Regions from separate parts of the Homo sapiens genome. Here region 2 is linked to region 1. Evidence: fine-mapped expression QTL. A gene starts in region 1. The other region holds a variant in brackets. All regions are shown on one strand. Distances are from middle to middle.

Region 1 (16,717 bases):
TGCTTTAATTTGTGTAATAATTTATGTGTTATTAGAATGCTGGTATACAAAGATCAGACATGACTAATAAGTAAAAAAAATTATCATAAAAGTGAACTAAATCCAAATATTTGGTGTATCTACTTATCTACTCTTTTCCTGGTAGATAATATTACATTTGCATTTTGTTATTCTAGAAAGTGCATAACGTTCTTTGTTTCTTTTCCTTTTTTTTTGAGACGGAGTCTCGCTCTGTCACCAGGCTGGAGTGCAATGGCACGATCTCGGCTCACTGCAACCTCTGCCTCCCGGGTTCAAGCGATTCCCCTGCCTCAGCCTTCCAAATAGCTGGGACTACAGGCACGCGCACATCACGCAATTTTTTGTATTTTTTTTAGTAGAGATGGGGTTTCACCATGTTGGCCAGGATGGTCTCGATCTCCTGACCTCGTGATCCACCTGCCTTGGCCTCCCAAAGTGCTGGGATTACAGGCATGAGCCACCGCACCCACCCAGTTCTTTGTTTCTTTTATATTTTAGATGAAGCATAGATTTTTGTTAAAATAATACATATACCAAAAAAAGAAAAACAAATGTGCAAAAGGATAAATGAAGCCTCTAGATATTGCCGGACTATTTTTCCAGAGATATTTAATCTGAATACAAAGTTAACATTGTTTAGGATATCCTAAATGTAATATCATATAAGGAAGTCACTTGGCTTTTTGAAGTTATTTTTTAATCAACATACCAATTATCAAGTCAAAGACTAGGTTAGATATGCTATTGCTCTAACCCTGTATTACAACTATATATACACACACACACACATACACACATATATATATGCACACACATACACACACACACACACTTTTTTTTTTTTTTTTTTGAGACAGTCTCTCACTCTGTCACCCAGGCTGGAATGCAGTGGCGCGATCTCAGCTCACTGCAAGCTCTGCCTTGTGGGCTCAAGCAATTCTCCTGCCTTAGCCTCCTGAGTAGCTGGGATTATAGGTGCCTGCCACTGCACCCAGCCAATTTTTGTATTTTAGTAGAGGTGAGGTTTCATCATGTTGGCCAGGCTGGTCTCAAACTCCTGACCTCAAGTGATCCGCCTGCCTTGGCCTCCCAAAGTGCTGGGATTACAGGTGTGAGCCACTGCACCTGGCCAGCAACTATATTTTTTGTTATTTAAAAAAAGTATCACAAATAGTCTCCATAAATAAAATTTGTATATCTCAGTCCCTAAATTTTAATTTTAATGTTCTACCATCATCAGTAATGGCTCAAATAGTCATTTCTTTCTCTGATTCTTCTATTTCCCCTTAATATATAGCTTTTTAGCTTCTAATACTTCCCATATAATTTTCCCCCATATATTTTATATCTTTGTTTTTAATCTAATTTTCGTACTTACTTTAGCCAGATACCAGAAGAAAACATGTGTTGTGTCACTTCAGGCACTTTTTCGAAGTCTTTTCCCTGAAGATATCATTTCTGTGATGAAAAGATGTTGTACTAAAATATCTGCAATATACAGTATAGTTAGAACAAGAAAATGAAAGTACATCTAGACTGCAGTTAATGAACACTACCTATGTTTTCTCAAGGTAACAACAGAGAAAAATAAATAAAATAAGATAAATTATTTGTATTAAATGAATATTTTCATTTTCAAAATTTCGGTCTCATTTTATAGAACTGGCACATTTAAAATTACCTGATTTAGCAAAATAAGATCTAAATACAATTTTCCAGAAATGTATGTATTGTGTAAAGTGAGATATACTGGTTTCATGTATAAAACAGTCAGAGAATGTCAATTTATGGAAATAAATAATTTTTAAATATCTGTTACCCTTACTGGGCATGGTGGCTCATGCCTATAATCCCAGCACTTTGGGAGGCTGAGGCGGGCAGATCATGAGGTCAAGAGATCGAGACCAACCTGCCCAACATGGTGAAAACCCATCTCTACTAAAAAATGCAAAAATTAGCTGGGTGTGGTGGCGTGCGCCTGTAGTCCCAGCTACTTGGGAGGCTGAGGCAGGAGTATTGCTTCAACCCAGGAGGCAGAGGTTGCAGTGAGCTGAGATCACACTACTGCACTCCACCCTGGTGACAGAGCGAGACTCGTCTCAAAAAAAAAAAAAAAATCTGTTACCCATGAAAGATAATCAATACCTATCAAATATTGGATTAACCATGCTAAGAGCAATTAATGTAACAATAGCTCCAATAAGACCTCATTAAATAATCAAGTACTTCAAATAAACAATAGATTTAGCAAAAAGCACCTAGCCGACAGCATTAGTTTCATTTTTAAAAGACTATTCTTTAGCTAGTGCTGAAAGCATAAGGCATTGATCCTTTAAAATAAGAATAAAGGATACACAGTTTCTAGTACTTTTGACTGGGTGGTTACTTGAAACATTATTCTCCAGGAAATTCTAATTTTCCTTCAGAGATGTTAAATTTGCTGCGAGACTTCACAGAAAAATATTTTATGATATCCGAGTTCTTAATTTTTTCCCATGGGCCTGCTTCTCCCCTCAATAATTGTCAGCCAGAAAAAAGATAATTATTTGTTTAACTCTTAAACTTTTAGGTATATACTTATTTTATGGATTGTTATATGACACTGGGCAAGCTAACTTCTCTGCGTCCCAATACTATCACCTGTAAAAAAGCTGGTCTGTAGGTGATCTGTAATAGTGATCTCCATCCTCTTCCCCATCCTTACATAGATGATGGTTAGGATAAACTACCATCAGCAACACTGGCTCCTCCAGCTACCCAGTTGAGCTGCCTGTTGCCTGCTCTTCCTTCCTTTGGAGAAATCGTTGATCTAAGATAACTTCAGCATTAAAAAATTACGAGTCTAGAGTGATCATGAGATTGAAAACAACTATCTGAAATCATGCAACCTTGAGATGCATTTTCTTTTTGAGACAGGGTCTCACTCTGTTGCCCAGGCTGGAGTGCAGTGGTACGATCCTAGCTCACTGCAGCCTCAAACTCATGGGCACAAGGGATCCTCCTGCCTCAGCCTCCCAAGTAGCTGATACTATAGGTACACACCACTGCACCCGGCTAATTTTTTAATTTTTTGCAGAGACAGGATCTCTCTGCTACTTAAGCTGTTCTCACGTTCCTGTTCTCAAGTGATCCTCCTACCTTGGCCACCCAGAGTCTGGGGTTACAGGTGAGCCACAAGGCCGGCCTTTTTTTTTTTTTTTAAATAAAAACATCTTTTTTGTAAGGTTCTTAGTAAAAATAATTATAATAATAATATATATAAAGGGTGAAGGCTGTGCCACCACAACTTTCAATACATTCCCTTCCTGCCACTCACTTCCATTTGATGAAATCAATAGGAAAATTGCTGTACAACAAAGAGTAGCATCTGACAGGCACTGTGCCAACCTTTACCTCACACTTTCAAAGACCGGAAGAGTTCAAGGCTTTAGTTTACACATGGTTTGGCTACTCTCAGACGCTAGGCAATTGTTGGGTTTCCTGATTACCTGCAAAAACATTTTTGGATAACAGCTCATTGAGAAAAAGGGATATCTACAAAGACAGAATATGTCATTTTTATGGATCTAGCTATTATGTTATTTGTATAGGTTGAATAATTTATATGTACTATATCAACTATTAAATTTTGGACAAATTTTTAGGCTTTGCCAGCAAAATTAGACCAAAATTTCAATTTTGAACAGAGTATAAATCTCTCTTCTCTAAATTAAAAACCCTTTCCCCTGCTTTTAGAAAACATAATTGCATAATTCAAACTCCTTCAAAACTGTGACCTAGTTCCCCCTCTTGATGTTATAAAGGGCTCATGTAACTATGGTAACTAACCAGGGAAAATTGAATGTTTTTCTGGTCAGCAATATGCAAAGTATACCATATGTGCTATTTTTTCTCTTTGGGATAGCTAAGGGGATATTACGTTTGCCTTTTTTCTTGTTTATGAAAATATGAGATCTTATTATACCGAATTTCCTCTTCACTACAATCCCAGTCATTCACACGGTCCCTTCGTTAAAACGTTTTAGGATCATATTTTGCTTTTAGTAGTCATCCTAAATGCTGAATAGTACTATAATCTAAAGCAGTAGGATTGACTGTATACACCAGTTAAATCTGTGCAGTCTAACACATAAACTCCAAGTACAGGGTGATATTGCTCAGATTTCTAATATTCCTTCTACAGAATCTGATATTTTCTTAACTTTGTCCTTTTTTTTTTTTTTTTTTTTTTTTAAATGAGACAGAGTTTTGCTCTTGCTGCCCAGGCTGGAGAGTGCAATGGCACCATCTTGGCTCACTGCAATCTCTGCCTTCCGGGTTCAAGCGATTCTCCTGTCTCAGCCTCTGAGTATCTGGGATTACAGGCACATGCCACCACGCCCGGCTAATTTTTGTATTTTTAGTAGAGATGGGGTTTCATCATATTGGTCAGGCTGGTCTCGAACTCCTGGCCTCAGGTGATCTGCCCACCTCGTGGCAAAGTGCTGGGATTACAGGCATGAGCCACCACACCTGGCCTAACTTTGTACTTCAATCCTAGCCAAAGTGTTTTCTTAAAGCAAAAGAACTGCTAAAATGGAATTACATCTTGGAGTATATTTAGATATTGAGAAGAGTTATCTCCAGTTTGTAGTGACTTTTATATATCTTTTTATTTCTATTTAAATTTTTTCTACAATAATGTGTATTACTTATGTAATAAAGTAATAAAAAATGCTTTAATGCTTTAAAACTGAGTTCAGTGGAGACGCACACCATTAGGTTTTGTTTTTTTTTTTTCTTTGAGACGGAGTCTCGCTTTGTCGCCCAGGCTGGAGTGCAGTGGCATGATCTCCGCTCACTGCAACCTCCGCCTCCCGGGTTCATGCCATTCTCCTGCCTCAGCCTCCCCAGTAGCTGGGACTACAGGTGCCCGCCACTACGCCCAGCTGATTTTTTGCATTTTTAGTAGAGACGGGGTTTCACCGTGTTAGCCAGGATGGTCTTGATCTCCTGACCTCGTGATCCGCCCGCCTCGGCCTCCCAAAGTGCTGGGATTACAGGACTATTAGGTTTTTCTTTAGTTGCTTTTTGTACTAATGAATTGATTTAAAGTTTTAGGGTTTTTCACTATAATTTAAGATGCTTCACTGGACCTTCTAGAACAAATTACACTCTAACACAGCCTCCTAGATTACTAAGGATTTATTTATTTGCATCAGGTACAATTACATTTCTTACAACACGCTATCAATTGGTGACTTTTCATATGAGGATTTCTTCTTGAATTTCTCCATATTTAAAGCAGTGATTTTAAACTACTTAAATATCTTCCTCAGAAAAACATTGCTCTCTGCTTCACTGAATTAAACAGGGAATTAACTGCCTCTTACTGGTTTGGAAAAGACCTCAGTAACCAAATAAAATGCATGGGATTTGCTGGATCCTGTTAAACCAAATGTGAAAGATTTACTGAGACAATAGGAAAATTTGAATTGTGTAGTTATTAAATGATAGTAAGAAAATTTGGGGAGGCAGAATACATGGTATTACGGATATGCTTAAAAAACTGTTATCTTGGCCAGGCATGGTGGCTCACGTCTGTAATCCCAGCACTTTGGCAGGCCAAGGCGGGCGGATCTCTGGAGGTCAGGAGTTCCACACCAGCTTTAACCAACATGGTGAAACCCCCTCTCTACTAAAAATACAAAAATTAGCTGGGCATGGTGACACATACCTGTAATCTCAGCTACTTGGGAGGCTGAAGCAGGAGAATCGCTTGAACCTGGGAGGCGGAGGTTGCAAAGAGCCAAGATCGCCCCATTGCACTCCAGCCTGGGCGACAAAAGCAAGTCTCAGTCTCAAAAACAAACAAACAAAAAACAACTATTATATTTTACCTATTCATATTATTCATATTTAAAGTATTTACAGATAAAATGATAAAAATCCAGCAAGAGTGAGGGAATGTGAAGGGCTATAGATTAAATAATCTTAGCCATATGTTGCTAAATGTTGAAGCTGGGTAGACGGTATATAAGGATTTATTGTAGTATTACTTTTGCCTTTGAAAATTTCCATAAAAGTTTAAAAATATTAAAAAGTAGAAAAAAGAAAAGGATTTCATTTATTTGATCTGACTCAAACAGAAGCTGAATTTTCTCAGCAGGCATCTTTAGGAATCTTTCACCATTACTTGCCAGTTTGTTTTCAACCAGTTTGAAGTTGTTGCTCTCCCCAAGAGACAGGTACGGAGGCGTACACATTTCCTGCCAGGGACCTCTTAAAGTCAGACTTAGAAATTCAAGGTAATCCCAGACTAATTTGGGGAGATCAGTTACTTATCTTTTTTTTAGGGTTGCTTTATGGTAGATAATACACTGTAGAGCAAATAAAATGCCTTTTTGCTTTATTCACAGGATTAAATACCATAAATTAATTTCTAGTTGCTGAGAACGGGAGATTTTAAATTTTGCATTTAGAAGACAAGAAATTCAATCTGAAGAGGCCCCATATTTCCAGTTAAGTGACCACTCAGAAGGGAAGGACAGCGCTCAATAACCAAGGTCAAGAGTTGGGTTTAGGGTTTGTGGCGATTTTTTTTGGGGGTGGCAAGAATAAGCCGTAGATTAATCTCTTAAAATAAATATAGCAAGAAAAGCATGCCTAAAATAATTCATACATATACATATATTATCATATTACAGTGTTTTACAGTTTTAGATCAGTACCAGCTAAAATATTCTTTGGATTGTTTTTGCTTTTTTACCAGCCTGTTCAACAGAATTATAAAAGGTGACAATAATGCTATAAATGTCTCCTATCCCATGCTCATCCCTCCTCTCATCTTGCTCTGTTTCTGGAGTACTCTAGGTATTCTGCATCTTTGCCTTTTTCCCCTTCTAGTTTCTAAACACATTTCTTATCTACTTGCAGATCACTTATCAGACTGAATAAAATCCATAGGTACATTCGGTGTCTGACCTGTAACAAGGCACCCCACATTATTTTGCGCCTTTGATAAAGACCAGCTTATTCAAACTTGTGAGAAAACAAAAATAGCAGGGTTCAAGTAAAAACCAGTAAAATTCAGTTCTTCACAGTGGCGGTTTTTTGACAAGACCCGGCCGAAAGATTTCACGAACAGTAAAATCCCAGAATGTTCTCAGAAATACTATCCACTGTACTGTCTGGGTTGCTTAATACTGGCCCAAACCTCAGTGTCCTAGGATAATAACCCAAGACAATTTCCCAGTCCTTTGAAATAGTTGACGTCCCAAGATGTCAAATTGCCTGGAGTGCTTTATTTTGGTTTGAAATTTAAAATTTCCTCTAGATAAAGATCTAGATTTCTCTTTGCAAGTCAAAGGCTAGTTACTATTAACAGCTGTTTCAAAAGTGCTCTAAATAGGTCACCATTCAGGTGTACCAACGCTGCAAACTGGATCTAAGAAGATCCAAATTTGTCACCACTCACTCACATTTTAACTCAAAGGTAGTACTCACAATTGGCCTTGTTTACATAGGCATTCCATTAAAATTATCCATGCATTCATTCTATTTGCACCCATTTCTTTCAAAAATGTCCATCTGTAATTAAAATCAGCTCCTCTGCCTGACATCTCATTTACACTACACCGAAATTAAACCCCACTAGGAGATCACGTAGATTATGGGGCCGAGGGCCCGCCCGCTGACTAGGTTTTCACTCGCGTCTCCTCCATGCCCCAGGTCCCCTCCGATTGCAGTCCTGGGGCAGGACTGAGCAAAAAGTCCCGTAAAGCTGGCGTGTGCCCCACTCCGCCAGGAAGCCTCACCGACGTCCTGTGCTTAAATGTTCTGACACCCCCCAAAAGCAGTTGTTTTTAAAGGCTGTCTGTGGGACCAATGCGTTGTCAAACAGATGCCGTCCCGCATCCCCTCCCCCTAAATGACACAGAAGATTCCAGCGTAGGGGAAGGGCCACGAAACCCGCAGGGCACACGACGCCGGGGGCCGGAGGGAGCACCGCCTACCTCCCTGATCAAGCCCCGCGGTGCCGGGCGAGCCCGAGGGCCCGGCAGGAGGCGGGCGGCAGCCCCAGGCGAGCTCGGAGGCGGCGGGAACGCAGCCGCCGCGCATGCCGGGAGCCGCACGCCGCCCGCCGGGGCGCGCAGTCCCGCAGGCCTCGCTCCAGGTCGTCCGAAAAGGAACCGCCTGCTGCTCCTTTGCAGGCTCGCGAGGAGCCGCACTCGGACCGCCTGATGGGGAAAAAGCCGGTGTGGCCGGGCGGAGCGAGCCGAGCGGAGCTGGAGCTGCCCCTCCCAGCGGGGAGGACGGCACGAAGGACCGAGCCGCCTCCCCTCCCGGGTCCCATTCAGACGCGAGGCGCAGAGACTGGCTCCCCGGGCTTCCCCTTTAAGGGGGGCGGGGCGCGGCCTGCCGTTTGGCCGCCCCCCACACCCTCCCCCGCTAGCCCAGAGCCGGCAGACCAATCGCCCGGGCGGCGGAGCGAAGGCGGGAGAATGCGAACCCTCCGGTAGGCGGTAGGGGCGGGCCCCGGCCTTATTCGCAGGGAGCGCTGCGCAGGCGCAGAGGCGGCCGCGGGCGGAGGGGCGGGGGCAGGCTAGCGGGAGGCTCTCCGTGAGGCACGGAGGGTGACTGGGGACAGGCGGGCGGCGACGGGCTTGTCATGGGGATCCGGGCTGCGAGACGGCACTCGTAGCATCTGGGGACTCCGAGGGGGACAGGAAGTGTCAGCGCCCGGGACCCCGGCGCCGGCCCCGCCGAGGGGATCCCCACTGCTCCGGTCCTGGAGCGGGAGGGGAGAAAGGAGGGAGCCCCGGTTTCGCCCCGCCCCTGGGCTGGTGCTGCGGGGGCGGGGAGTGAGGGCTGCTCTGGGGGGAGTGGAGATCGGGGAGCGCGGCCGTGCCCTCTCGAGCGGCTGCGGGGTCCCCGCGGCGCCGGGCTGCTGAGCTGAGGGCCCGCGGCGGCCGCGGCCGGTGCATGTGCGGCTGCTGGATGCGGAGGCGGCGGCGACGGCGCGGATCGGCAGGATGTTAGGGCAGCAGCAGCAGCAACTGTACTCGTCGGCCGCGCTCCTGACCGGGGAGCGGAGCCGGCTGCTCACCTGCTACGTGCAGGACTACCTTGAGTGCGTGGAGTCGCTGCCCCACGACATGCAGAGGAACGTGTCTGTGCTGCGAGAGCTGGACAACAAATATCAAGGTAGGAGCCGCGGGGCTGCCGGCCTCGGGAGCCGGTGGCGGGGAGCCTGTCCGGGGGAGTGCCACCTTCCCTTTCTCCCGTGACAGTCTCCCCGAGCGCACCGAGGGTCTGCCGAGCGGGACTGGGAGGACTGGAGACCGGGTTGGCGGCCCTCCGTGGCCCCGCGGTGGGCGAGTACTTCTCTGGGGTCCCCAGAGTGGGGGTGGGGGCCGCTTGTCAGCCCCCGCTGCAGACCCAGCGGCTGCAGCTGCCGCTGAGGGGAATCAGCCATTTTAAGCAGCAAGCATTTGTTCAGGCGCTGGCCCGCCCCGTGCCGCAGACCCTGCGGCCCCGGCCCGGGACTGCAGCCGGGCAAGGGTCGGAGGGAGTGAGCGGCCGGGCTCCCGCTGGTCTGCGGGGCGCGCTTCCCCACCTCACTCGCCCCCACCCCGGAGTGCGGGTGCTTTGGAACGTGCGGGGGGAGGGGGCGAGAGGCCGCGGAGGCGGACTGAGGGGGCCTTCCTCCGCGCTCCTGCCCCGGCCCGGAGGAGAGCAGTCCGTTCCGCTCTCTCGCCCCGGGAAAGTTCGCGGGCGCCCCGCGTTGTAGCCCTAGCCCAGTTCTTTCGGCAAAATGGTTAAGAGGGGAGGGGTCCCCCGCGGGAGAGGAAGAGAGGGGCGTGTGTGGCGGGGAGGGCCCCCGCGCCGGGGGCGGGGCCTGCGGGCTTGACGAGGGGCGTGGGAGGGGCGCGGCGCGCGTTCCCGCGGGCCTGGAAAATGGCTGGTCGCGAGAGGGGCGGTGGCGAGCTGGCTGCTGGGGAGGGAGTCGGGGCTGTGCGGGGGCGTTGGTTCGGCCCCAGCGGAGTCCGAATCGGGGTTTGCAGCATGTTTTGCGGTGATGTTTCCAACCTCTTTCCCAGTCAATGGATCAGGACGGCGATCAGCAGCTCGGACCGTCGCGGATCCTGGCTCCGCGTAGGTTCCGGGACATGTGTCACTTCCGGGCTTCAGGAGGAAGTGGGTTGGTTGACTGGGCAACCGCCTGGCGTCCCCGAGCCCCTCCTTCTCCGACTTTAAGTGTGGAGGCGAAACCACCCTTTGCCGGCCGACCCGGGAACCCGGGACAGAATCGACCTTCCTTACAGTGTTACCACCTACTATCGGTGGTGCTACTAGGAGGGCAGTTTAAAAGGGGAAATGTGTTGCGCTTAATAACCTTGAATCGAGGAACAGACCTTGAACATAGTATGGAAACAGCCATACGAACTTTAAAGATAATTTCCTGGACCCATTCTCTGTTTTTGTAGACACGCCAGTAATCCTATACTTTAAAAGTCTCTAAGGAATCCACTTCTTGGGTGACATAAGTGTCTGATGTTTTTTAGTTTATAAATTTGTTTCTGTTTTCTGAATCCATAGGATTCATAGGACTGATCCGTGTTTGGGGAGGGGGTGGGGAGGGAATTAAAACTGATGCGCTGGGTCCAGACCATTATATAAATATTTCTTTTACAGATTACAAAGAGTTCAAGTAACTCGTCCAGTTAATTCGATGTAGAATATTTGGCTCCAGAGCCTGCTACTGTAGATGCATATCTTTGTTTTCAAACAATTTAAGTTTTAATAAAAACTGTCCAAGGGGATTTCTACAGATATGGAGCACAAACATGAATGGTAACCTAAAAATGATACGTGCTTAATAATTGTATATGGAACCTTTCTAGTTTTTCAGATAACACCAAAGTTTGTAAAGCTTGTAGTTTGTGTTGTTGTTTTAGACAGAGCCTTGCTCTGTCCCCTAGGCTGGAGTGCAGTGGCTCGATCTTAGCTCCCTGCAACCTCTGCCTCCCGGGTTCAAGCGATTCTCCTGCCTCAGCCTCCCGAGTAGCTGGGATTACAGGCAACTGCCATCACGCCGGGCTAAGTTTTGTATTTTTAGTAGAGACGGAGTTTCACCATGTTGGCCAGGATGGTCTTGAACTCCTGACCTCAGGGGACCCGCCCGCCTCGGCCTCCGAAAGTGCTGGGATTACAGGCGTGAGCCACCGCGCCCAGCAAGCTTGCAGGTTTTTACATTTCTTTGAAGGCACATGTTTCCTTTCACAAGAGTTAAGCTATTTGAAGTTGGTGAGGGATACTATAATTTGTTGACAGGGAAATCTTTCGGATCATCTATAATTGTCAGGTATTAATAGCTCTGGTAACATTAGTAATATAGTAGGCCTTACAAGATTGAGAGATTATACAAATTCTTAGCTCTATGAAGTTTGTGATTAGTGATTAAAAACTCATCTAGTTTTCACTCTGCACGTGGTTACTGAGCTCAACTTTCACAGTTTTATGTTTATGTATATTTTGGGTTCAGATTTCATGTTTTTTATATCTTCACTAGTGCTTAAGTATTTTCTGGTTTTGGATCTAATATTTCTAGCAATATTTAGTGATATAAATTATATAGGCAGTCAAATTTCTTTCTAACCTACTTGAGACACTTTCAGAACTGCTGAAAAACTTATAAAATGAGAAATAAAGAAGAAAACAATTTCACAATTGAAGTACTTATTATGGGATAGGGTTATTAGAGAACCTTTATTTTTATTCTAGTGTTCCCACTCATAATTTCTTAGATAAATAACAACCTTCAAACTAAACTTTGATACTTAATTTCAAGTGCCTTTCATATAGTTTATAGAAAGTGCTTACACTGCGAGGTCAGACATACAGATCTGGCACAGTTCAAAGTCTGGGGTTCTTATCTCTTGAGTTGCAGTTTTTTTCACAAGCAGAAGTGATGGCTTCCTCATGGGGTTGCTGTGGAGATTAACTGAGAAAATCTTTACCACATAGAAGGGGCTGAGTAAATGTTAATTTCTTGTCTTCTTTCACTATATAATACGGTATCTTACAAATTTTTTATCTCATCTATCAATGTGCTGGTATGATATATACTGTACTTAGCCTCTAACACCTGATTATTAGGTACAAAATATTTGAAAAGAGGTTTGCCTCTTTTTTTTTTAATCCTCAATTTTTTATGTGTCTGAGGGAACCAGTTTCCTTATTTTTCCTGTAGGGAAATGAGGTTCTTAAGAAATCTGCTTAGATGCCGAGCTAAGCAAATGGAATAGACATGAACTTTGTTCGAAAATATGCTATGCAGGTGTAAGTACTCTGAACTGTGTGGTGGCACTTTGTTATATATTCCAAGTTAGACAGTTGTACATCAAGTACGAGTACCTGCGATTTCCAGGGAGAAGCTGATTAATGAGTTCTGTTGAATATTTGCTTTTGTGTGCCTTACTTGCAGACAGCCCCAATGTATATATCTACTTGCCTAACATTTCTGTTTTTAATAATTATAATATTGGAATATAAAACTAGTATGCCATGTGGTATGAAAAATACCATGCGGACAGAACTCTTTGAGATAGCATTACATCTTGTAAGAATAAGAAATAAAACGGATTCGAGCAAAACTAATCTTAAGTAAATTTTTGGTGACATCTGAAATTATATTTTCAGATTTTTGGATACCTTCTAGTGACTCAGCTATTTTTACTTGATTTAAGTAAGTGTATTCCACGTGCCATACAACTAAATCAGCAGTTCAGAAAGCTCAGAACCAACTACTGATTTATCTACAAAGGCAGAATGATCGAGTGCTGACTTTATTGTAATTTTGTTAGTGGTTTGGTCAGTTGATGCCAGAACCAGAACCTACTCTGGAAATAGTTTCATTTTCAGAATTTCCCATGTGAGGCTAAAGTAGAGCCATTAAAAGTAAGATGATGGGAAGCTAAGAGTTGCTTATGCCTTCTTTGTTAAGAATGTATGATGTGAAAGTGAAGCTATATCTCCGGAGTCATGTCACAAGTCATTGTCACAAGTCATTGATTGGACTGTAAATCCTGTAAACACAGTTGGGCAGTAATCTGTAGCCTAGTCCTGTAACCTTTTCAAGTTTTAGAGCTGGACCCCAGCCTGCACATTTTATATATAGGGTTGTTTTGAAGGTGTTACAGTACTTAGTAGACTAAAGTGGCATTCAGTGTTCCTGCCCATGAGAAATACTTTTGATCATTAATTAGCCAAACATCTCTTATCCTTTTTTTTTTTTTTTGAGACGGAGTCTTGCTCTGTCTCCCAGGCTGGAGTGCAGTGGCGCGATCTCGGCTCACTGCAAGCTCCGCCTCCAGGGTTCTCGCCATTCTCCTGCCTCAGCCTCCTGAGTAGCTGGGACTACAGGCGCCCGCCACTGCGCCCGGCTAATTTTTTTTGTATTTTTAGTAGAGACGGGGTTTCACCGTGGTCTCGATCTCCTGACCTCGTGATCCACCCGCCTCGGCCTCCCAAAGTGCTGGGATTACAAGCGTGAGCCACCGCGCCTGGCCTTTTTTTTTTTTTTTTTGAGATGGAGTTTTGCTCTGTCGCCCAGACCGGAGTGCAGCGGTGCGATCTCGGCTCACGGCAACCTCCGCCTTCCGGGTTCAAGCAGTTCTCTGCCTCAGCCTCCCAAGTAGCTGAAATGATGAGGGGCGCCTGCCACCATGCCCGGCTAATTTTTGCATTTTTAGTAGAGACAGGGTTTCACTATCTTGGCCAGGTTGGTCTTGAACTCCTGACCTCAGGTGATCCACCTGCCTCGGCTTCCCAAAGTGCTGGGATTACAGGCGTGAGCCACCGCGCCCAGCCTCTTTTTAATATAGATTAATGAGTATTAGTTTTGTGTTCTTTCTTTTCATTACTTTATTTCTAACTATACTTTCATATTAGATAATGTGGTCTTTGTATGAAATAGTTTTTAATGTATATGTACCAAAGAGGAGTATGGTTTCATGGTTTGAGTTCTAATTTCAATTCTGTAAAAAATAACTACCTTGGAAATGTTGTGTCTGCTAACACATGATAACGTTCTCATTTTTCTTTTCCTTTTTTTAGAAACGTTAAAGGAAATTGATGATGTCTACGAAAAATATAAGAAAGAAGATGATTTAAACCAGAAGAAACGTCTACAGCAGCTTCTCCAGAGAGCACTAATTAATAGTCAAGAATTGGGAGATGAAAAAATACAGATTGTTACACAAATGCTCGAATTGGTGGAAAATCGGGCAAGACAAATGGAGTTACACTCACAGTGTTTCCAAGATCCTGCTGAAAGTGAACGAGCCTCAGATAAAGCAAAGATGGATTCCAGCCAACCAGAAAGATCTTCAAGAAGACCCCGCAGGCAGCGGACCAGTGAAAGCCGTGATTTATGTCACATGGCAAATGGGATTGAAGACTGTGATGATCAGCCACCTAAAGAAAAGAAATCCAAGTCAGCAAAGAAAAAGAAACGCTCCAAGGCCAAGCAGGAAAGGGAAGCTTCACCTGTTGAGTTTGCAATAGATCCTAATGAACCTACATACTGCTTATGCAACCAAGTGTCTTATGGGGAGATGATAGGATGTGACAATGAACAGTGTCCAATTGAATGGTTTCACTTTTCATGTGTTTCACTTACCTATAAACCAAAGGGGAAATGGTATTGCCCAAAGTGCAGGGGAGATAATGAGAAAACAATGGACAAAAGTACTGAAAAGACAAAAAAGGATAGAAGATCGAGGTAGTAAAGGCCATCCACATTTTAAAGGGTTATTTGTCTTTTATATAATTCGTTTGCTTTCAGAAAATGTTTTAGGGTAAATGCATAAGACTATGCAATAATTTTTAATCATTAGTATTAATGGTGTATTAAAAGTTGTTGTACTTTGTCTGTGACCTTAATTTTCTGCACTGAGTTACCAAATATTTCCAACCAGGTAGTCTTCAGATCACCTGATGAAAGGAGCAGGGAACAGGAAGAGGGTGGTGTAAACATTATAAAAATTTCACAAACCATGCCTATTTCATTTTCACTTAAAACTGCAATGTTATTTTTTGGGTAAACACAAAAGTTTCACTAGCATTTTAGTTATACATGCTTAAAAAAATGTTAGATGTAGTGGGATTTCTCTTAAGCATCAAATGATCTTGGGTACTTTAAAATACAGACACTATGCCATTTGAGCTGCTTTTTCCCTAGTCCTATTTATACGTTGGCTTGTTCATCTCTAGTCTTCTAGGAGTTTAAGGAACTGGAGATAAGAGTAATTTGGGATTCCATGTGGAATAATGTGCTCTTATGAGAGTACGTGCTGCTGTCTTTTGCTTAGTAGCATTTTGATCCACTGTCAGTAGCCCATTTGTCAATGCCTTGCTGCTGCTTTGTAGATATACTTAGTCTAGTGCTTAATAAGGGAGTTGTTTTGTGTTTTCTTTTAATTGGGACAGGTAAGAGTAGTTAGCATACCAAAAATATACATTGGCTTACATTGGCAAACTTTGGGTTATATAGTATCACGGCTCAAGGTTGAACAATTTAAAAATACATCTTAATTAATAGTATTTTCCATGTGACCTGCTGCCAGGATGCGTAGCCACAGGCCTATCAGTGGAAAGGGGCATATAGTAGTCTTTAAATATTGCCTTTATGTCAGAGAGTTGTTTTAAATGGTTTTGCTAGTGGTTATTGTTCATTTCTGTCCCAATCAGTGACTATTTTAAATAATAGTGTATTTACTGTCTTAACTTCTAGTATTGGTGCTGTTTGATGTTTTCACATTTAATTAACTTATTTCATCATCATAATGCAATTAATGTATTTGTAAATTGAATTTTCCAAGATTCTGATATTTGAAGGGTAAGCATCTTGATGGATATATGTCCATATGTTTAGAGAAGGTTTTGGTTTTGGGGGCAGCAGATTGACTAGTTCTTTAAATCTGTGTGTAACGTATGTTTTATTCCTCATTTCTTCCTAATCTGATGATCTTGATTCTTTTTGATTAACATGAAAAATCCTGTCTGCTTGTTTTGGGAAAAAAAAATGCTTTTTTTCTCTTCTAGCTCTCCTGTGTGACTTTTAGGCATGTCATTTCACCTTGTCTGGGTGTCAGGTCATTCACCTGTAAAATGAGTTGGCTTAAATATCTCCGAGATTCCTTGGAAATTTCTACTATTTGCACTATAGTGAGGATTTTAATAATGACATGACTTCTCTTTTCATTAATTTTGTCCTTCATTCTGAGGTATAAAGATAGTTTAAAGGTGAGTTTGGAGATGGGTAAATGTGCAATATTTGTTAGCTTCTGTCCTAAGAATATTTGGATTCATGACTAGAGCTAGTTGATTCTATTACCTTTTGAGTGAGAAATGTTAGACAGCATGATTAAGAATTTAGCAAATCCTTTCTCATCACCATAACTTAGCTGAGTTGTAAGGAAATCCTTTTGAGAATATGGCATTTTGTTTTAGTGATTACAACCTTGTTACCAGAATGGAGCTTTTTACTTGACACCATTAAAAATATCAGTATGGACAAAACCCCCAAAGCCTTCAGATGCGACTTACATAGAAGTCACCACTTTTTCATACGTAAATCTGCCTTGGCAGATGGGAGAAAAGAAACGACTTCCTAATAGAAATGCCAAAGTTTGGATTAGACTTGACGGGA
Region 2 (16,717 bases), 47 kb before region 1:
GCTGTCTCTTACTAGACATGTAACCTCTGGGAATTTAACCTTTTAACCTTACTTCGTCTGTGAAATAGGACTAATAGCTGTCTCATAGAGCATGGCAGTTAGATGAGATGATACATTCAAAGTGCCCGGCATGGTGCAGATATCCCATGGTTCACTTATATATTCTTATTCCTCTTACAAGGAGCTCTTCTCATTTGGCCTACTTTTCAGATGGAGAAACTTACACAGAGTAATTCGGTCAGATAATTCAAGCCCATATCTGATTTCAAAACCCAAGCTCAAGTATGTTGTACTGCTTATTATCCTTGTCACTTCTCTATATGCTGAAATTTCTGAAAATCCCTCCCAGAACGTGATTTTTTACCAGATTAAGTGACCGCATCTTTCTAAAGCCTCCTTGAAATGAGTCACTTCAGAGGCTCTTCTATTATTAATGCTTCTAATACTTGCATATCTTGAATATCCTCAACTAGTGAATCATCCCATATGGATGCAGTTGAACTTTGTAAAAAGACCATACACACACAAAAGAAATCTGCACAAAAAACCCCCCAAAACCAAAAAACCAAACACACCTGCCTAAAATAGTGTATAATCAAGTTGAGTGAATAAAGTCGGCTACCAAGATGGGATATACTGCTTTTTTCAGATGAGTGAGGGGAGACGATTTCCTGAGACATCAAGATTTTTCTTGATGTTAGAATGAGATTTTTTTTTTAATGGTAAAATTAGTTGACTTGTAAGAATGATACTGTCATGAGTTTTTGACCTAAATTCTTGGAGCCTGTCACTGCTGTCATTGGCTAGGATAATTGTCATAGGGATATGTGTAACTTTAAGGCCTTTGATATGTATTATCAGGAGCCTGCTCCAATTTGAATTATGTTTTCCCTGCCAAGTGCAGCTTTTCTTGGTACAAATTTCTACTTGCTGTTTAGATTTTTGAGTAACAGCAGTGAGAAAGTAACAAAAACAAGCCGCAATTGGGAATCAGGTCAGTCCTACAGGTATTGTGTTACTACTTTGTGGACTTTGTCCTCAAAAATTGTGCTGAAGTCCTATATTGACCTACTTTCTAGACATTGGTTATCCATTCCTGCATGATTTTTAAATAATATTTTCTGTGATTGATGAATAAACTATTTCACTTTCTACTAGAACAAAATGTTCAAGTTGAATGAAGGGTTAAGCCATTTATTGCCCAACTATTCCTCCCCAAGAAAAATATCAATCATATTTCTTTGGCATCCCTGCACACAGCTTAGTTGCCATCCAGTTAGAACCATTTCTTACTACCAACTTTAATTTTAATATCTCTCGATTTTCCTCCTTTTGTTTTTGTTTTGTTTTTTTGTTTGTTTTTTTTTTGAGACAGAGGGAGTCTTGCTCTGTCACCCAGGCTGGAGTGCAGTGGCGTGATCTCGGCTCACTGCAACCTCGGCCTCTTGGGGTCAAGCAATTCTCCTGCCTCAGCCTCCTGAGTAGCTGGGATTACAGGCGTGCATCACTACACCCAGCTAATTTTTTTGTATTTTTAGTAGAGACGGGGTTTCACCATGTTGGTCAGGTTGGTCTCGAACTCCTGATCTTGTGATCCACCTGCCTCAGCCTCCCAAATTGCTGGGATTACAGGCGTGAGCCACTGTGCCCAGCCGATTTTTCTCCTTTAAAAGTCATTATCTGAAAATTATTAGTTTTTAAAGTTCTTTTTCTGTTCCTTTGCTATTCATCTAGCAAGAAAAAGAGTAGACAAGGCCCCAAACTAAATGGACTTTTAACTTTGAAGGGAAAAAAGAAAAGTAATGCTAGGTTGGGCATGGTGGCCCACAACTGTAATGCCAGCACTTTGGGAGGCCAAGGCAGGCGGATCACCTGAAGTCAGGAGTTTGAGACCAGCCTGGCCAAAATGGTGAAACTTTATCTTATAAAACTACAACATTAGCTGGGCGTGGTGGTGCGTGCCTGTCACCCCAGCTACTTGGGAGGCTGAGATAGGAGAATCGCTTGAACCTGGGAGGTGGAGGTTGCAGTGAGCTATGATTGTGCCACTGCACTCCAGCCTGGGTGACAGAGTGAGACTCCGTGTCAAAAAAAAAAAAAAAGTAATACTAAACACAAAGGGTTGGATACAGGACATTTTGAGTAAAAACTAGAGATTACATATGCCAGTACTTAAGAAGCAATCAGAAATACTTTGTGAATTTGAAACTTTATTGAATAGAATCAGAATCCTTGGAGGTCTTAGGAAGCAACCAAACTAAACAATATAAGTAGTAAATACACTAAAGACTACCATTTTACTGAAGTGGGACTATCATGTGCAATGTATATAACTTGGAAGCTAGAGACAAATGTACAAAAAGGTGATTTGGGAGGGAATCATCTAGTGATTTCCTTATACTGTTTTCAGTGTACCAGGGCTTAGACACTTAAAAATGATAAAACCCAAGTTCTGAATATGTCATCAGTGGTTTTCAAACTTTAGCCATATTTCTTCAAAGAAAAATGGGGGCATTGTGTATGTAAAACAGAGAACTACTTTGGTCAAAGGAGGGTGGCCACACCCTACAACTGAATTATACGTTTGGTTCTTAATTTCTTTTTCTTTTTTTTTTTGAGACAGATCTGGTTATGTTGCCCAGGCTGGAGTGCAGCGGTTCACTGCAACATCTGCCTCCCGGGTTCAAGCGATTCTCCTGCCTTGGCCTCCTAAGTAGCTGGGATTACAGGTGCGCACCATCACACCCAGCTAATTTTTGTATTTTTAGTAGAGATGGGGTTTCACCATCTAGGCCAGACTGGTCTCGAACTCCTGACCTCAGGTGATCCACCTGCCTCAGCCTCCCAAAGTGTTGGGATTACAGGCGTGAGCCACCACACCCAGCCTCTGTTCTCAGACTCAATTTCTGAGCTACCTCCTTGGACTATGAGCAGAGGGGATGCAGCAACTAGGAGGCTTAGTGTAAACAGCCAGCCTCCTTCTGCAATAGGTGTTAGAGTGGATGTGGGTCGAAGCTGCCAGTTTACTACAAAGTTGAACTAATTAGTTTTTTAAAGTAGTATGCCATATTAAAATTTACTTGAGTGGGGACTCAGATCGGGTTTAAGGGATTATTACATAAATTAACATTTAAGTAATACTAAAAATAGCTGCCTTTTGTTTCTTTTTATTGTGAAATACAATTGCAAAAACCCATAAAGTCCACACATGTAAAGTCCAACAATTACTGAATGCCCATATAATAATTATGTAAGCCAAAAAATAAAATTTTATCAGCACCTCAGGGACCCAAATCCAGTGTTCTTACAGAAGACTTGAACAGTGGTTTGGTTCTGATTTGGGGCAGTGAATGTAAATGCCAGTGAGACGTGCTGTCCCATGATCCTTGTTTCCTATATTCCAGAAAATAGTAAGCGAAATGCACACTTTGAGGAAAATTTGAGAAATTTTATGTTCAACTATTTAGGAAGCTTCTAAAAAAGTAAACTTTAAAGAAAACTTGATGTGAATCATTAGAAAATTTTTCTAGACATTCTATTTGTAGAATTCAGGGACAATTTACAGAGGCAATGATATAACCAATGCGTCGAGACGCATGATGTATCTTAGGAATGCTGTCTGTTACTCTTCACCACTTGCATATTATTAAATAATTTTCTATACTAGCTAAGGAAAAAATGATTCTCATGAAATAAAATCTGAGTTCCCGGGAAGCATTTCTAGTGTATCTTAGCTATGTGCACTGATAGTGGATCATATATACTTAATGCAGGAGTTTATCATGAATGCTCAACCTGCAGTTTGGAAACTAGTATGGGGTAGAAATATGTGCACCTTTCTGTCTTTGTTTTTTGTTTCAAAATAATATTGTATGTGATTAACAAGAGAAATAAGATGGAGTAAAATAAGGATACTATTTTGAAAATATTCACTACACTCCCCTGTAATTTGCATTCTCTAGCAATCATTCTGCCACTATGGTTCTCATAGGGAAGGATGTCAAGGAGGAGGTTAAAGAGGCAGGCATTTGAGACCTGAGGGTCCTGACCTCTATGACAGTGGTCCCCAACCTTTTTGGCACCAGGGACCAGTTTCAGGGAAGACCATTTTTCCACGGATGGTGGGTAGGGAATGGTTTTGGTATGATTCAAGCACATTACATTTATTGTGCACTTTTTTTTTTTTTTGAGATAGAGTCTCGCTCTGTTGCCCAGGCTGGAGTGTAGTGGTGCCATCTCAGCTCACTGCAACTTCCACCTCCCAGATTCAAGCGATTCTTCTGCTTCAGCCTCCTGAGTAGCTGGGAGTACAGGCATGAGCCACCATGCCTGGCTAAGTTTTGTATATTTAGTAGAGACAGGGTTTCACCATGTTTGTCAGGCTGGTCTTGATTGAACTCCTGACCTCATATTACCTACCTGCTTCGGCCTCGCAAAGTGTTGGGATTACAGGCATGAGCTACCACACCCAGCCTGTACACTTTATTTCTATTGTTATTACTTTGCAATATATAATGAAATAATTATACAACTCACCATAATACACCATCAGTGGAAGACCTGAGCTTGTTTTCTACAACCAGATGGTCCCATCGGGGGGTGATGGGAAACAGTGACAGGTCATCAGGCATTAGATTCTCATAAGGAGTGTGCAATCTAGATCCCTCACATGCACAGTTCACAATAGGGTTTGTGTTCCTATGAGAATCTAATGCCACCGCTGATCTGACAAGAGGCAGAGCTCAGGCGGTCATGTGAGCAATGGCGAGCAGCAGTAAATACAGATGAAGCTTTGCTCACTCACTCGCTGCTCACCTCCTGCTGTGTGGCCCCGTTCCTAACAGGCCACAGACTGGTACTGGAGGCTTGCAGGTTGGGGACCCCCTGCTCTATGGTGTAGCATGAATTTCACCTGTGTCAATATAGCAGAGATGAGAGTGATGACAATTTTCATCCAATGATCCTGCTGCTTTTTTTTTTTTTTTTTTTTTTGAGACGGAGTCTCGCTCTGTCACCCAGGCTGGAGTGCAGCGGCGCAATCTTGGCTCACTGCCAGCTCCGTCTCCCGGGTTCACGCCATTCTCCTGCTTCAGCCTCCTGAGTAGCTGGGATTACAGGCACCCGCCACTACACCCGGCTAATTTTTTGTATTTTTAGTAGAGACGGGGTTTCACCGTGTTAGCCAGGATGGTCTTGATCTCCTGACCTCGTGATCTGCCCGCCTCGGCCTCACAAAGTGCTGGGATTACAGGCGTGAGCCACCACGCCCGGCCGATCCTGCTTCTTTTATCCCCTGGCTGTAATTAAAGAATGCATCACTTCTTAGGAGGTTCCAAGAGAGCAAAGCAAAGAGGGCTTGAGTAAGAAATAGTGAAAGCATCAGGACCTTAAATACAGAGCCACCTAGCTGTACACACCACGGGGAGCCGTTCACAAGCAATGTAATAGACATCAGTTACTACAATGAGTGGTGCCCCCTGAAGTTGTGGAAGAAGGTGGCCCTTTTTGGAATCCCTGTGATTGCTGTATATAGTGAATTTATTTTTAAAACCTTACTTTAAAAAGGAATTTGGTTCTGTAATATGGAAAGAGCTGCTAAAGAAAGGATTTTGAAAAAAATAGTATTAAAGGTCTATGAAGCATTGATAGCACATAAATTCTAAGAAACTCTTCTTGGAAGTAGCATATATGCTAGTTATGTGCTGATACTGGGGGCACTATTTATACTTGGTCATGAATTACTTTGCCCAACATATTCTTCTACAGGAGGGATTATTTCAAGACTGTCCTAAAATAAAAGCACATAAGATAATGTAAGGCTGCTTAGATTATGTTATATTTGTTTTGTTTCTATTCCCAAACCTTGGGGGAAAATCAGGAACTAGACAGATGAAGAATTGTGTTGGCTCAGATACGGAATAAAACTTGAGTGTCTGCTTTGTGTTCTCTCCTACAAATAGATAATGTCCCTTAATTTATCACATCACTTGTTTCTGAACATTTGGTGTAAACCCACCATCTCTTGCCCAGTTTCATTTTCATCTATTGCTCCTAGCTTTCCCAAGATAACATGGCCTGAGCCAAGAACATACTTGAATTCAAAGCTATGGGACCAGAATGAAGGTTGGTTAACCTATCTGTCCCTGGGCATTAGACAACAGACCCTTGAAGCAGCTAAAGCGCCTATCCTGAGCTGGGCACCTTGACTGCCATCCCCACTGAGACCATATGACCTGGGTATGGGTGGCTGGGCAGTAGTGGTGGTGGGGAGAATTCCTGAAAGTTCTCATTGCCTCAGGGATGACTTTCCAGAGGGATGTTTTAACCATAAAAGGAAAAAATGTGCTGGGCAGGCCAAAATAGATGTCCTGTAGAATGACTCAGGGTGAACAAACAGCCGTTGAGACCTCCAATAAGTTCTTGCCATGGTCCACGCTGTACGAAGATGGTCATGAAAGCCATCCAGCACTCCCAGGTCCTGGAGCACACTCTCCCCATTCTCAAGGTCTTTCTCCTAGCAAGTTCCCCAAACACTGTGCCTCAGAAAGAAAAATGGTCAGGAGATTTCCCTCAGAAACTCAAACAACTGATCAGAATAGGGTGATGCTGGTGCCCTCCCACAACGGATTTCCTCCCCCTGGTTCCTGTGGTTTTCATTCTACTGGTCTCCAAGCTGCCATCACATCCAGCCAAAGCAACTCTTTGCTGCCAATGCTGCCAATATGGGCAGCTTTTTCACCAGATGTCTATCGATTAAAACCACTGGTAAGAGCCATTGAACGATGCCAACAATCTTATCTTACAGTGGACTTGGTCTCTCTTAGTTTCCTACCCTAATTTTTTGGTTATCACTACCTTCCTGGGAAAGCTGTTTCCACTAAGATAATCTGTAATGTTTTGTTCCTTCCAACAGTTAGACAGATGGTCATCACAAATACAGTACGTGCCTTTAAATCTGATATAATCTGTAAAAAGAATAGATCACTCAATCTTCCTTATTCTATCATTAGCAAAAAATTACTTGTGATATCACTTAGAGCCAATGGGTGTCACGCTGATGAAAATGAAAATTGCTGCCTCCTCAAGAGATGAAAGAGCCAGACTCACAGCATTACGCCCTTTTAGACAAAGTCTATCTCAGGAGAGTCCGGTAGCGGTGTAGCTCTTTGGTTTTCTTCCACTCTTCAGGAGAAATTGTTAGTATTCTAGCAACACTGTTTTCAGGCACTGGCTGGAATACTTAGCAGGGAGAAAACTGGCCACTCTTGAGTGTTAATGAGGCTCAAAGCATGCTAGCACGTCCTAAGCACAGGGTGCCTGTCCTAACATCAGGCATTTTCACCCATGTCCTCCAAAATACTTAATCTATCAAAAAATCCCAGAAACCCGAGAGTCTGCGGAGCCCTGAGGTATACAGCGGACAGTCTCACATTCGTAGACCCTATGGGCCACATTATGAGCCAACAATGACAGTCTGAAAATTGGGACCAAACATTACTCCATGAATTAAAAACAGCAGCAGCAACTTAAAACAGCAATCAGTTCTATGAAGCAAGAGCTCAAAGCAGAAGTGTGGTAGCTCAGGGAAGAAAGAATGAGCACCAGGAATACATAAAACATAGGCTGGAGGGACTCAGGAACTGAGAGGAAGCAGTAAAGTCAGCATAGAATTGAAAACGAGATCGGAAGAAGCACAGGCAGAGAAGATGCTGCTGACGACACAGGAGCAGAGTCGAAAGCATAAAAGTGGATCAAAGGAAGTATCAATTTGGGATTTTAAAATTTGAGCGAAATGACAGAGAAAATAGACAAAGGAGGTGAAGAGCATAATTGGAGTCTCAAAAAATAAAGTTGAATTGTTGAACAGGACAAACAATAATACTTCAAACATTTTTATAAAATAAAATAGGATCAACATGCTGAAAGAGCACACCATATTTCAGGGAAAACTGGCCTATAATACTAAATATTCATATATATATATATTTTTGAGATGGGGTCTTGCTATATTGCCCACTCTGGTCTTGAAATCCCAGGCTCAAGAGATCCTCCTGCCTCAGCGTCCTGAAAAACTGGGACTACAGATGCATGCACCATGCCCAGCTCTAAATATTTACATGTATCTTAATAAAATTATTGGACTTCATAGATTTTAGAAGGGATCCTTTGGGTGTCCAGGCAAAAAGTTCAAGTAATGTATAAGAAAAAACTCAGGGTAAATTCATACTTCATAGCAACACGAAGCACCAGAAGACACTAAGAAAAAATTGTGAAGAAGAATTTTATCCAGGCAAATGATGATTCCAATACAGACACAATTTTTAATACCCAAGAACTCAAGGATATTGTCCCATGAACTCTGCATAAGTAAGGAAGTTTTAACCAGCAAGCTGACCGGGAAAGTTAGCACAAAGGGATGGGAAGCAATCACTGACTCTATTTTTTTTTTTTTTTTGAGACAGAGTCTTGCCCTGTCGCCCAGGCTGGAGTGCAGTGGCGCGATCTCAGCTCACTGCAACCTCCGCCTCCCAGGTTCACGCCATTCTCCTGTCTCAGCCTCCCAAGTAGCTGGGACTACAGGCGCCCGCACCACGCCCGGCTAATTTTTTGTATTTTTAGTAGAGACAGGGTTTCACCATGTTAGCCAGGATGGTCTCGATCTCCTGACCTTGGGATCCACCCGCCTCGGCCTCCCAAACTGCTGGGATTACAGGTGTGAGCCACTGCGCCCGGCTAACTTTATTTAACAGTATAACCAAGATGAAAGCAAACTCAGGGATTAAAGTGACAGAAAAGAAAGTAAATTTTATATTTTCTGATAATGTAGAAATGATATAATTAATAAAAGTTGGAGCAGAAAAGAGAAAGAAGGTAGGTAGAAATAAGTGTGCAAATTTACTCATCTTTAATAGATGAGGTCAGCGTTTACCATTCAATGCTGGCGAGTCAAATAATAGAGGGTTTTAGGTTTTTAAAAAACACGCTGAAAGGTAAATAATGAGAAAGATAATAAACTAAATTTGGGAATAGTATTGATATGGTTTGGATGTTTGGTCCCTGCAAATGTCATGTTGAAATATGATCCCCAGTGCTGGAGGTGGGGCCTGAGTTCACATGAGATCTGGTTGTTTAAAAGTGTGGCACTGTCCTCTCTCTCTCTCGTCCCCAGTCTCACCATGTGACACACTGACTCCCCTTTGCCTTCTGCCATGATAGGAAGCCTCCTGAGGCCTCCCCAGAAGCAGATGCTGGCACCATGCTTCCTGTGCAGCCTGCAGAGCCGTGAGCCAATTAAACCTCTTTTCTTTTC[C/CTT]TTTTTTTTTTTTTTTTTTGAGATGGAGTTTCGCTGTGTCACCCAGGCTGGAGTGCAGTGGCACAATCTTGGCTCACTGCAACCTCCGTCTCCCAGGTTCAAGCAATTCTGCCTCAGCCTCCCGAGTAGCTGGGATTAGAGGCGCCTGCCACCACGCCTGGCTAATTTTTGTATTTTTAGCAGAGACAGGGTTTCATCGTGTTGGCCAGGCTGGTCTCGAGCTCCTGACCTCAGATGATCCGCTCGCCTCGGCCTCCTAAAGTGCTGGGATTACAGGCGTGAGCCACTACACCTGGCCTTAAAGCTCTTTTCTTTATAAATAACCCAGCCTCAGGTATTCCTTTATCACAATGCAAGAATAAATAAATAGATACTCTCTAAAGAAGTGAGAGATTAAGGGCACAATATAAAGTCACATTTAGAAGGGTAAACTCTGGGAGGAAAAACCCAAATCTTCCTACCTTTCAAAAGAAAAACATATACACACAACACAGAAAATAGGTCATACAGTGACATCTTTTAAAAGATGTAAAAAGAGAAAGCACAAAATAAATAGGACAGAATCAACACCAAATGTATGTGGCTCATCAAAAGTATAAATGAATAAACTTACCTATATAAAGAAAACAATTTTCAGATTGAATCATAAAGCAAAATACAACTTTATGCTGCATTCAGGGGACACAATTAAAAATACGCAAAAAGTTTGAAAATAAAAGGATAAGCAAAAACATATCATTAAAAGTAAAAAATATTAAATGAGGTAATGTGTAGAGTGCTTACAACATTGCCTTGCACCTAATGTGTAGTATTAAAATATCAACCAAAAATAGACAAACTATCCAAAAACAAAGCAGGAGTTGAGCTCTTACTGTTAGACAAGGTTGAGTTCAGGTTCAAAAGTAAGAAACAAAACAAAGAAGAGCGCTTCATAATGGCAGACGACATAATTCACAATATACATCTAATAGTTATGAACAGTTAAGCACCAAATAGCAGAGAGTTAACATTCAATATTCAAAAGGAAAAATTATAGGAGAGACCAGAAAAACAGACCTCAGTGCACTGATGACTTTCAATCGCCTCTCAAGGTCCGTGACAGATCAACTGGACAAAAATCAAGGCTACAGAGGAGCTAGATAACACAGTTAATGAAACAGATCTCAGTTATATATCCAAATATATATCAAATGATGATTGCTGAAAAAAGGCAACGGTCTGTTTTTACAAGTATTCATGGAATATTCACAAAAATGAAAACGTACAGACAACAATCTCAATCACAATGCAACGAAATTAGGAGTTATGTAATAACATCACCCAAAACAAAAACTATCTGCCATCTGGAAACTTTAAAATACTTTCTTAACAGCTCTGGAATTCAAGATGAAATCAAAGTAGAAACTGCAAAATAGCAAATAAAAATAATAGAAAACATTCCATATTTGTATGTATGGGATATGAAGCTTAGCTACAGAGTCAAAGTAAATAAGAAGGAAAATACAAATTAGAAGAATAAAAAATAAATGTAAGGAAAGCAGAATAAAGAAATGAATAATGATAAAATCATAAGTTGATGAAATAGAACAATTTTTTAAATCCACAGAACTGGAAACTAAATTCGAAATCTTTTTTTAAACAATAATATAGGCGAGGTGCAGTGTCTAATGCCTGTAATCCCAGCACTTTGCGAGGCTGAGGCAGGAGGATTGCCTGAGCCCAGGAGTTCAAGACCAGCTTGGGCAACATGGTGAGATCCTGTCTCTACAAAATATATTTTAAGAAATTAGCTGGGTATGGTGGCACATACCTGTAGTCCCAGCTACTCAAGAGGCTGAGGCAGGAGAATTACTTGAGCCTGGGAAGTTGAGGCTGCAGTGAGCTGTGATTGCTCCACTGTACTCCAGCCTGGGTGACAGAGCGAGACCTTGTCTCAAAACAAAACAAAACAAAACAAAAACAATAAAATGGACAAGCCATTGCTTAACCTAATGAAGGAGAAAAACAAGTACGCAAATAAGAATTTATTGAGGCCGGGTGTGGTGGTCCACGCCTGTAATCCCAGCACTTTGGGAGGCCCAGGTGGGCAGATCACCTGAAGTCAGGAGTTCGAGACCAGCCTGTCTAACATGGTGCAACCCCGTTTCCACTAAAAATACAAAAAAATTAGCCGGGCGTGGTGGTACATGCCTGTAGTCCCAGCTACTCAGGAAGCTGAGGCAGGAGAATCTCTTGAACCTGGGAGGCAGAGGTTGCAGTGAGCTGAGATCAGCCACCGCACTCCAACCTGAGAGACAGAGCGAGACTCTGTCTCCAAAAAAAAAAAATTACTGATAAGAGGAAAGTAACCACAAATATAGTGGAAATCTCATATAAAAATGAATAAAATTGTTTTCTAGAAAAGTGTCATTTACCATAATCGATTTTTTTTTTTTTTGAGACAGAGTCTCCTTCTGTCGCCCAGGATTGAGTGCAGTGGCACCATCTCAGCTCACTGCAACCTCCGCCTTCTGGGTTCATGTGAGTCTCCTGGCTCAGCCACCCAAGTAGTTGGGATTATAGGTGTGCGCCACCACACCTGGCTGATTTTTGTATTTTTAGCAGAGATAGGGTTTCACCATGTTGTCCAGGCTGGTCTCGAACTCCTGACCTCAAGTGATCCACCTGCCTCAGCCTCCCAAAGTGCTGGGATTACAGGCGTGAGCCACCATGCCGGGCCCACAATCGATTTAGAAGAGAAAAAAATTTAAACAGATCAATTACCATAAAATAAATAGGAAATTGTCAAAAAAAAGACCCCTCAAATTCCAGCAGTTCCAGAGGAATTCTGTAAAACCTTTAAAGAAAAGACAACTCCCATATCTTATTTTAATTTTTTCAGAGCATATAAAAAGAGGTAACATTTCCAGTGTTTAGTTAATGAACCAAGTATATTTCTACAGAAATATATTGTTATTATTAATAGGTATAAGAAGAAAAATTCTATACAGATATGTATCACTTAATGATGGAGATATGCTCTGAGAAATGTGTCAGGCAATTTTGTCATTGTGCAAACATCATAGCATGTACCTACGCAAACCTAGATGGTAGAGCCTTCTACACACCTAGGATCTATGGTCTGGCCTATAGGTATGGCCTACTGCTCCTAGACTACAAACCTGTGCAACATGTGACTGTGCTCAATACTGTAAGCAACTGTAATACAATGCTAAGTATTTGTATATCTAAATATAGCTAAACATAGAAAAGGTACAGTAAAAATATGGTACAAAAGATAAAGAACGAACGCCTTCACAGAGCACTCACCATGGATGGAGCTTGCAGGACTGGAAGTGGCTCTGGGTGAGTGAGCGAGTGAGTGGGGAGTGAGTGTGAGGGCCCAGGACATTACTGGGCATGGGTATAGACTTTATAAACACTGTACACGCAGGCTATGCTAAATGTATAAACAATAATTTTTCTTTCTTCAATAATAAATTAACCTTTGGCTACTGTAACTTACTTTATCGAGTTTAATTTTTTAAACTTTTTTGTAATAAAAGCTTAAAACATGAAAACATTGCATAGCTGTGCAAACATATTTATAAGCTTTTTCATGTTTTTTAAAATTTTTATTTTTTATGTTTTTACTTTTAAAACATTTTTTGCTAAAAACTAAGACAAACACACACATTAGCCTAGGCCTACACAGGGCCAGGATGATCGGTATCACTGCCTTCCACTCCTACAGCTTGTCATCTCCTGTAATAACATGCCTTCTTCTGGAATAACTCCTAAAGGTCCTGCCTGAGGCTATTCTACAGCTTTCTTTCCTTTTTTTTGTGATGCAGTCTTGCTCTGTTGCCCAGGCTGGAGTGCAATGGTGTGATCTCAGCTCACTGCAACCTCCACCTCCTGGGTTCAAGCGATTCTCCTGCCACAGCCTCCCAAGTAGCTGGGACTACAGGCATTCGCCACTATACCTGGCTAATTTTTGTATTTTAAATAGAGACGGAGTTTCACCATGTTGGCCAGGTCAGGCTCAAACTTCTGACCTCAAGTGATCCGCCGGCTTTGGCCTCCCCAAGTGATAGAATTACAGGCGTGAGACACCGCAAAGCAGGAGTACACTCAAAAATAACAATGAAAAATATAGGATAGTAAATACATAAGCCAATAACATATCCCTTTATTATCAAGCCTTTCATTATGTGCTGTGCATGATTGTATGTGCTATACTTTTAGATGACCGGCAGTTCTGTAGGTTTCTTTACACCAACATCTTCACAAACACGTGAGTAATGCATTGTGTTATGATGGCTATGATAGCACTAGGTGATAGGAGTTTTTCAGCTCCATTATAATCTTATGGGACCACCACGGTATACATGGTCCATTGTTACCAAAACATCGTCATGCAGCACATAACTACTCATGTCTAAAAAAGCTATCAAAGACATTGGAAAAATTCCATATTCATACTTGATGTAAGTTCTTAACAGGAGTATACAAATACGTTGTTAGCATAATGAAATATATTTATCTCAACCACAAAGAATCTGTTTAATATGGAAACAGCGTGGATGTAATATTGAAACACTCCTGCTAAGTTATGGACAAGATAAGCACTTTTTTTTTGGTGGGGGGATGGAGTCTTGTTCTGTTGCCCAGGCTGGAGTGCAATGCCGCGATCTCGGCTCACTACAACCTTCGCCTCCCAGGTTCAAGCAATTCTCCTGCCTCAGCCTCCTGAGTAGCTGGGATTACATGCGCGTGCCACCACGCCCACCTAATGTTTGTATTTTTAGTAGAGATGGGGTTTTCACCATGTTGGTCGGGATGGTCTTGAACTCCTGTCCTCATGATCCACCCACCTCAGCCTCCCAAAGTGCTGGGATTACAGGTGTGAGCCACCCTGCCTGGCAAGTACTATCTTAAGCTGAGGAGATACGCCATTTCTCTTACTGTTTCCTGTCCCTGAAGAGAAGGAGGAAGTAAAAGCTGAAAAACAACAGAAATGAAGTCAGTGGCAAGACCAACCGGTGCCACTGACCAGGCCTGAGGTTAAAGATTAACCCCCCACTCTAACTACGTGTATTACCTATAGATCACTTGCTGGATATCTTTCACGTAGACCCCCATAGAGTTGTAAGCCCTTAAAAGTGTGTCCAGACTTGGTTCCCTCTGGTGGATTCTTGGTCTCACTGACTTCGAGAATGAAGCTGCGGACCTTCACAGCGAGTGTTACAACTTTTAAAGGTGGTGTGGACCCAAAGAGTCAGCAGCAGCAAGATTTACTGTGAAAAGCGAAAGAACAAAGCTTCCACAGAGTGGAAAGGGACCTGAGCAGGTTGCCGCTGCTGGCTGGGGGGTGGCCAGCTTTTATTCCCTTATTTGTCCCCACCCATGTCCTGCTGATTGGTCCATTTTACAGAGTGCTGATTGGTCCATTTTACAGAGTGCTGACTGGTGCATTTTTACAGAGTTCTGATTGGTGCATTTAATCCCTTAGTTAGACACAGAGTGATGATTGGTGTGTTTTTGCGGAGTGTTGATTGGTGCACTTACAATCCTTTAGCTAGATGCCAAGTGCTGATTGGTGCATTTTTACAGAGTGCTGATTGGTGCGTTTACAATCCTTTAGCTAGACACAGAATGCTGATTGGTGCGTTTACAATCCTTTAGCTAGACACAGTGCGCTGATTGGTGCGCTTTTATAGAGTGCTGATTGGTGCGTTTACAATCCTTTAGCTAGACACAGAGTGCTGATTGGTGCATTTTTACAGAGTGCTGATTGGTGCGTCTACAGTCCTTTAGCTAGACACAGAGCGCTGACTGGTGCATTTTTACACAGTGCTGATTGGTGTGTTTACAATCCTTTAGCTAGACACAGAGTGCTGACTGGTGCGTTTGCAATCCTCTAGCTAGACAGAAAAGTTCTGCAAGTCCCCACTCAACCCAGGAAGTCCAGCTCGCTTCACCTCTCAAAAAGGCCAGGAATTTTTTCTTCAGGGAGCTTGGTTCTTGAGATGCAAGTCTGCCAAGGTTCCCAGCTAAATAAAGCCTCTTCCCTCTTTCAGCCGGTGTCTGAGGAGTTTTGCCTGCAGCCCATCCTGCTACAAAGCAATATAATTAAATGAGAGAAAACCAGCCTGGTCAACATGGTGAAACCCCGTCTCTACTAAAATACAAAAATTACCCAGGCATGGTGGTGGATGCCTATAATCCCAGCTATTTGGGAGGCTGAGGCAGGAGAATTGCTTGAATCTGGGAGGTGGAGGTTGCAGTGAGCTGAGACGGTGCCATTGCACTCCAGCCTGCCATTGCACTCCAGCTGTGCGACAAGAGCGAAATTCTGTCTTAAAAAAAAAAAAATTCAATGAGAGAAATATATGTTTAAACATTGGAAAGAAGGTAAAATCATTGTTATTTAGATATAATTGTATACTAGAATTTCCACCCATAATCAATTTAAAAATCTAAATAAATAAGTGAATTCAGTCAAGTACCTGGGTATGAAATTAATGCCAAATACCAATACAAATCTGGTGCTTTAGAATATAAAAATAACCAACCAGAAGACATAATAGAGAAGACCTTATTTACAATAGCAACAGAAAATAAACTATTTAGTGATAAAGAAGCATTTAAAATCTGCATGCAGAAAACATTGAAATACTAAGGGACAAGAAGGAATTTTTCAACAAACAGGAAAACACATAAAGCTCTTAGATACAAAAATTAACTTCATAAGTGTAATAGTTATGTTTGTTTATCTATATTTTAACATGATCCCAAGAAAAATACCAAGAGGATTTGTATACTAGATAAGCTGATTCAAAAGTTTGTAGGAAAAAAAATATAAGTAGTCAGGAAAACTCAGAAAAAAAAAGAATAATGAAGGGGTATTATCCCTACCTGATATTAAAACATATTTTAACCCTATAAATAAAAACATATTTTAACCCTTGGAGTCATAAAAGTTAAAATTGTATAGTAGTGGAGCATAACAAGATAGGAGATAAATGGGAGAAAATAGAAAGTTCAGAAATCAGTCAAATTTTCTAGGGAATATAAAATATGATAAAAGCAGCATTTTGAACTAGTGGGAGAAAGATAGCTTAATCAAAAACTAAATTAAGTAGCAAATTGGAAATGAAATTAAGATCCATCTCTGCTCTCCAACTTACACCAAGATAAATTCAAAGACTTAAATATAAAGTGTAAAACTATGAAAGTACTAACATGAGCAAATTAATCTTGAAGTATGGTGTGGGGTGGGGGCTGGTGCTTTCTAACTTTGACACAAAATTCAGAAGCCATTAAAGGAAAATACCAATTACTATGCTGATATGTTTTGGTTGTGTCCCTACCGAGATCTTAATGTGAATTGTATCTCCCGGAATTCCCACATGTTGTGAGAGG

Direction of the effects. Positions count from the first base shown, and alleles are read on the strand shown. Sizes are in standard deviations (SD) of each study's normalised expression.
As copies of CTT replace C in region 2, the expression in prefrontal cortex of the gene that starts at base 8,355 in region 1 goes up (small effect, 0.28 SD a copy in ROSMAP).

Evidence for each region. PIP is the estimated chance that this variant, and not a neighbour inherited with it, causes the effect. A credible set is the group of variants that fine-mapping cannot tell apart.
Region 2: its variant is the best candidate, but not a certain one, in a credible set for the expression of ING2-DT in prefrontal cortex (ROSMAP, PIP 0.58).

The regions. Positions count from the first base shown.
Region 1 is chr4:183,496,161-183,512,877 of GRCh38, forward strand. ING2-DT (ING2 divergent transcript) reads right to left here and starts at 8,355. Exons shown (of 3, transcript NR_033995.2): 1 at 8,016-8,355; 2 at 1,400-1,509. ING2 (inhibitor of growth family member 2) reads left to right here and starts at 8,898. Exons shown (of 2, transcript NM_001564.4): 1 at 8,898-9,207; 2 at 14,122-16,269. The coding sequence starts at 9,036. The coding sequence ends at 14,792. RefSeq lists silencers at 7,980-9,019, 9,240-9,959, 10,200-10,249 and enhancers at 12,985-13,485, 13,486-13,986.
Region 2 is chr4:183,449,287-183,466,003 of GRCh38, forward strand. No RefSeq gene overlaps it. Among named protein-coding and RNA genes, the nearest start is that of CDKN2AIP, 13 kb to the left of the region's middle. The variant C/CTT (reference allele first, on the strand shown) is at 9,311.